Linked DNA regions of Homo sapiens: region 2 is linked to region 1. Evidence: fine-mapped expression QTL. A gene starts in region 1. The other region holds a variant in brackets. All regions are shown on one strand. Distances are from middle to middle.

Region 1 (2,723 bases):
GGGCTCAAGCAATCCTCCCACCTCAGCCTCCCAGATTGCTGAGATTACAGGTGTGAGCCACTGGCCGCATTTGTCCTCAGTCTGATTCCTTCCTGACACCTGGGGACCGAGTCAGAAGCATCTGGCCTGTCACTCACTGATGGCCTAGTCTCAAACTCCCTTTCCCGCCTTAATTCCCCTTCTCACATCCTCTGCTTGTGCTCTTCTCGACACGCTTATTTCTGGGTGTCCAAATCCTTGTCACACTTCCTGAACTCAAAGAAATGCCAGGCCAGGCTGGGGGCGGTGGCTCACGCCTGTAATTCCAGCACTTGGGAGGCCGAGGCAGGAAGATCACTTGAGCCCAGGAGGCTGACGATGCACTGAGCCGTGATCACGCCACTGCATTCCAGCCTGGGCGAGAGCGCTAGACCCTGTCTCAAAAAAACAACAAAAAAGAAAAGGCCAACTCACTACTTCACCCCAGAGTCCAGCACACGGCTCTCAACGCGGTGAGCGCCTGCTGCACGTCTGGATGAGTAAAGTGTGGCTCCTGTTGTCATCCAGCCACGATCTGTTAATGATTCTTACTGAACACGTGGCTTGGCCTCTCAGAGCACCAGCCAGCAGTTAAAAACACAAACCAGCGGCCAAAGTTCAGGGCTCTCCACCCCCACCAGCCGTGCACCTGGGCAACACCGCCCAACGCCCAGAGGCTCTCTCCTGGTCTCTGCAGAGGGAGGCACCGGCACCTCCGCAAGGGACGCGCCCAGGGTTCGCGTGAAGCCGCCAGGCAGCGCTGGACCCCGCTCCATGCAGCCCAAGCCCAGCGGGAGCCTTCAAGCTCGAACTCGTCGCGGGTGTAAATTCTCCCCACAAACAAGTGGCTCGCGGCTCAGCCTGCAAAGCCCAGCTCGGGCGCTGAACCCAGCAGCGCCCGAGCTGGATCCCGGAGCTTGCTCTTCCCAAGTCCCGGGCCCGTCTCTCCGCGGGCGCGAGGCATCCCTGAGCCCGCCCCGGCCCCTCAGATCTCCAGGGACCGGCTGTCGGGGGTCCTGAGCCCGCCCCGCCCCGGCTTCCGCCCCCGCCGCGGGGAACTCTGGGACTGTCGTTCCCGCCCGTGCCGGAAGCCTCGGCGCGGCAGCGCGACACGAGGCTCCCCAGACCCAGCCGGGCAGTGCCGCTAGCGAGGCGGGCAGAGCTGCCCGGGTGGCACCCCGCGCACCCTGTGTTCCGGAGGCACCGTGAAGAAGCCCTCCTTACGAATACACTTCAGACGGATCTGCTCGCACTCCAGATCTGGCTCCGCCATGCCGAGCGCTGGCCCCGCCTCTCTTGCGCGCAGGCGCAGACGCGGACGGCCCCGCGGCGCAGGCGCGAAAGCTCCTTCCCGGGCTTCCTCTCCTTAGCAACGGTTACCAAGAGACGCTCCCGCGGGTCCGCCCTAGGCGCTGGGCTCCAGGGATCGGCTCCGACTGCTGCAGTTCGGGCCTTATTTTAGGGTGAAGCCCGGGCAGCCGACCCGGCTGCGCCGTAGTGGGAGGCCACGGCGATTACCCAGGTGAAGGTCTTCCAGGTGAGACGGGTTCCCCCAGGTAAGAAGGTCCTCCAGGTGGGAGTCCTTCATGTGGGGAGGTCCTCCAGGTGGGGGGGGAGGGTCCTCTCGGTGGGGGGTCCTCCAGGTAAGAGGATCCTCTAGGTGGGGGGGGGGGGTTCCCCAGGTGAAGGGCCCTCCAGGTAAGAGGATCCTCTAGGTGGGGGGGGGGTTCCCCAGGTGAGGGGACCTCCAGGTAAGAGGATCCTCTAGGTGGGGGAGTCCCCCAGGTGAAGGGCCCTCCAGGTAAGAGGGTCCTCCAGGTGAGAGGGTCCTCCAGCGGAGGGGGTCCCCCAGGTAAGAGGGTCCTCCAGTTGGGAGTCCTTCAGGTGGGGTGGTCCTCCAGGTGAGAGAGTCTTCCAGGTGAGAGGGTCCTCCAGGTGAGAGGTGAAGGTGAAGGTCCTCCAGGTGAGGGTCAGGTCACTTGGTCCAGGGATGTGGCTTCAGCAAGCATTTGGGTGCCTCCTCTGTGTTCAGGACATGGGGACTCCAGGAGACTGAAGGAAGCAAGTGGCAATGTCCATGCTGTCAAGTTCTGTCACAGAAATAAGCAGGAGTGAGTGAAAGACAGGAGAGAAGCTCTGTGAGGGGTGGCATTCAAGCTTAGCTTCTGGGCAGGAAGAGGCAGCTATGTCAGCATTCCCTAACAAGGTTTGGCAAAGTAGATACCTCCCCTCACTCATGGAAGACCTGACTTCCCAGGCTGGTAGAAGCTTCTCTCACAGGCACCTGCCTCTCCAATCTCTTTCACAGCCCAGCCCTGGAAGGTGGAAAAAGAAAAGTTGACATGGAATGTTTAGGAAGCACCATTGGTCCAGGTCCAGGATCGGGGCAGCCAGCATGTCCTCTAATCTGGCTTCACTGTTGAAATCCAGTCGAGCAAGCAGGGCCCAAACCACTGCGAGACCAGCTCGGTCGGGCCCAAACCACCGCCCACTGCGAGACCAGCTCGGTCGGGCCCAAACCACCGCCCACTGCGGGACCAGCTCGGTCGGGCCCAAACCACCGCCCACTGCGGGACCAGCTCGGTCGGGCCCAAACCACTGCCCACTGCGGGACCAGCTCGGTCGTGGAGACCCTAACCCAGCGGCGCTAGAGGAATTAAAGAAACACACACAGAAATATAGGGTGTGGAGTGGGAAATCAGGGG
Region 2 (3,006 bases), 270 kb before region 1:
AACTTGACTCACATGTTTGGGGCCAACCTGCCACTCCCACCACCAGACCCAACCTGTCCAAATGTAACAAACGAAACTCCCACCCCCGACCCCAAGCCCCTCAGCTTCCCCATCTCGGTTTCAGCAGCTCCACCCTTTCAATATCATGAGTTATCCTGAAGGGTTTCTCTCTCTCTGTTTTTGTTGTTGTTGTTTTTGTACTTTTTAAGAGACAGGGTCTTGCTCTTTTGCCCAGGCTGGAGTGTAGTCGTGCAATCAGAGCTCACTGCAGCCTCAGACTCCAGGGCCCAAGCGATCCTCCCATCTTTGCACTGGAAAACCCTAGGATTACAGGCGTGAGCCACCGCACTCAGTCAGACTATTTTCTAATCTGTTACATTCCGTTTCCAAACCTTCAGCTGGACTGCCCTTAGCGACTCCTCACTCCCACCACCTACCCCAGCCCAATCAGAGTCATCCCCCTCTTCTCAGTCACCTCCCTCTCAGTCCAAGCTCAGTCAGCAGCCACAGTAACCTATTAAAGCTCAAGTATGTCCAGCACCCACTTGTGGCCCCCACTGCACTTAAAGAAAAGCCCCAGCCACCTCTGAGCCCACCTCCCCCAGAAACAGAACTGCAGCCCCACCTGGCTCTCTGCTCCTCCTTATATCAACCACAGGGCTGCCCCCACCGGAACATTCCTCCAGACACAGAGCTGCAGCCACACCTGGCTCTCTGCTCCTCCTTATATCAACCACAGCACTGTCCCCACCGGAACAGTCCTCCAGACACAAAGCTGCAGCCACACCTGGCTCTCTGCTCCTCCTTAAGGCACTGGACACATCAACCACAGGGCTGCCCCCACCAGAACATTCCTCCAGACATATTGTCTTGGCTTGCTCCCTGACCTTCAAGTTTTTGCTTAAAAGTCACGTGACGCCGGCTGGGCGTGGTGGCTCACGCCTGTAATCCCAGCACTTTGGGAGGCCGAGGTGGACGGAACACAAGATCAGGAGATAGAGACCATCCTGGCTAACACGGTGAAACCCCGTCTCTACTAAAAAAAATACAAAAAATTAGCCGGGCGTGGTGGCGGGCACCTGTAGTCCCAGCTACTCAGGAGGCTGAGGCAGGAGAACGGTGTGAACCCGGGAGGTGGAGCTTGCAGTGAGCTGAGATTGCACCACTGCACTCCAGCCTGGGCGATTGAGTGAGACTCCGTCTCAAAAACAAAACCAAACCAAAAACAAACAAAAACAAAAAACAAAGTCACGTGATGCCTTTACATTCTGCCCTAAAGTCACATTCACTCCACCCTAACACGTGCTAGGTCCTTTCCCTTTTTCTTCATTGTACAAACTAGACACACCATGTAATTCACTAGTTTAATTTCTCATCCAGAACAGCCCTGTCCAATGTAGACAGTACAACGAGGAAATGCATATTTAGTTAATTTAACTTTGACTGGCCATGTTTGGCTAGTGGCCACCACACTGGATAGCTCACATCTGAATGTGAGCCCAGCGGAGGCAGGAACTTTGGTCTCTCTCATTCCTCACTCCTCGTCTGGGTCTCGGCCCACCTGTGCAGGTGTACCAGGTCTGAATGAGCCCCCAGATGATGGTGTTACACTTGTCACAGGTCTGCTTGACGCTCTTGCTCTTCTCCTTGTAAAAGCGGTGCTCAAGGAGCACTCGGATGTTTGGCTCATCCTCATTGGGGTCCTGCAGAGGGTGAGTCAGGGAGGGGGTCACAGGTGAGCTGGGCTGAAGTTCCT[T/C]TCCCTTCGCACAAGCCCCTCAACTTATTTCTTCCAGGCACCATTTAGGGCAGAGATTGTGAGTTTCAGCACAATGCCATGTCCCTTTTCTCCCTTTCACAGTAAACAATGATCAGCTGGACAAGGACCGCCAAGGTCACATGCTACCTTTCCCAGCATCCCTTGCGACCTTTCCCAGCATCCCTTGCAGCGAGGGGCTGTGTGGGATTGCACCGGGCCATGGGCATGTGAGCGGGAGCGACCCGGCCTCTCTGCCCCTCCTGCTTTTTGCCGGTTAGGTGCAGGGCAATGGAAAAGGAGGCCCTCCCCAACACCATTAGCTGTCATAGAGGCCCCAGACCACCTATGGGATTTTTACGTGAGGAAACGAACACATCTTCTCTAAGCCACTATGTTTTGGGGTTTTTTTTTCTTACCACCAATTTACCTGTTTCCTCATGAATATTCTACTTTCTACATTCCCAGGGATACCTGAATCAGCACAGGGGACACAGGGCAGCCAGGCCAAAGCACACACAGACCCAAGGACTGCATCAGGAACATCTGTGGCCTGGGACCCACCACCTTCTTTTGTTGTCACCTTCAAGACACCACCCGTCCTTGTCCATGTGGCTCACTCAGGGAGGAACTTACTTAGCCCACCCGCTTGCTTCAGTGGGTGGGCACACAGCCCAGAACTAGCCAATCGGCCACCGTCATTGGGTCAGTGGGCGGGCACACAGCCCAGAACTAGCCAATCGGCCACTGTCATTGGGTCAGGGGTGGGCACATGACCCAGAACTGGCCAGTCAGCCACTGTCATCCGGTCAGGACTGGCCAATGAAAGTCAGGCCTGAGGTTCCTGCTATAACCACTGTGAAAAGGCAGCTGTCATCTGCACAGGGAGGCTCAGCTCCTGGAAAGCAAGATGTGGTTGCCGGGACCGTCTCTGCCACCGCACAGGGAAGGCCTGCCTGAGGCTGGATCAGACACAGGAAGTCGAGTTGGAAGAGAGCAAGATTCCTGACACTGGAGGATCTTCCAGTCACCAAGCAAATACATTTTTCTTTTTGGCTTAAGCTACTCAGGGTTGAGTTTCTGTTCCTTGCAACAGGAGGGTCTAGGCTAATAGGGAAACCTCCCGCAGTGGGGTGAGGGCCCGTCTTCCACCCTGCCTGTCTCGTGCCCTTCTACCTCAGCCCCTGAGGCCGAGAGAGAGACCACCGCCTGAGAGAGAGCCAGAGGCTGGCAGGGTCCTCCTAGTTCCACAG

The links. PIP is the estimated chance that this variant, and not a neighbour inherited with it, causes the effect.
Region 2: its variant is fine-mapped to the expression of CDK10 in whole blood (INTERVAL, PIP above 0.99).

What each region holds. Positions count from the first base shown.
Region 1 is chr16:89,685,279-89,688,001 of GRCh38, reverse strand. It overlaps CDK10 (cyclin dependent kinase 10), which reads right to left and starts at 1,313. Exons shown (of 13, transcript NM_052988.5): 1 at 1,205-1,313. The coding sequence starts at 1,291. It overlaps LINC02166 (long intergenic non-protein coding RNA 2166), which reads left to right and starts at 1,090. Exons shown (of 3, transcript NR_184152.1): 1 at 1,090-1,555; 2 at 2,327-2,723. RefSeq lists a silencer at 879-1,128.
Region 2 is chr16:89,957,711-89,960,716 of GRCh38, reverse strand. DEF8 (differentially expressed in FDCP 8 homolog) reads right to left here. Exons shown (of 13, transcript NM_001242818.2): 6 at 1,562-1,703. Among named protein-coding and RNA genes, the nearest start is that of SNORA119, 5.8 kb to the right of the region's middle. The variant T/C (reference allele first, on the strand shown) is at 1,757.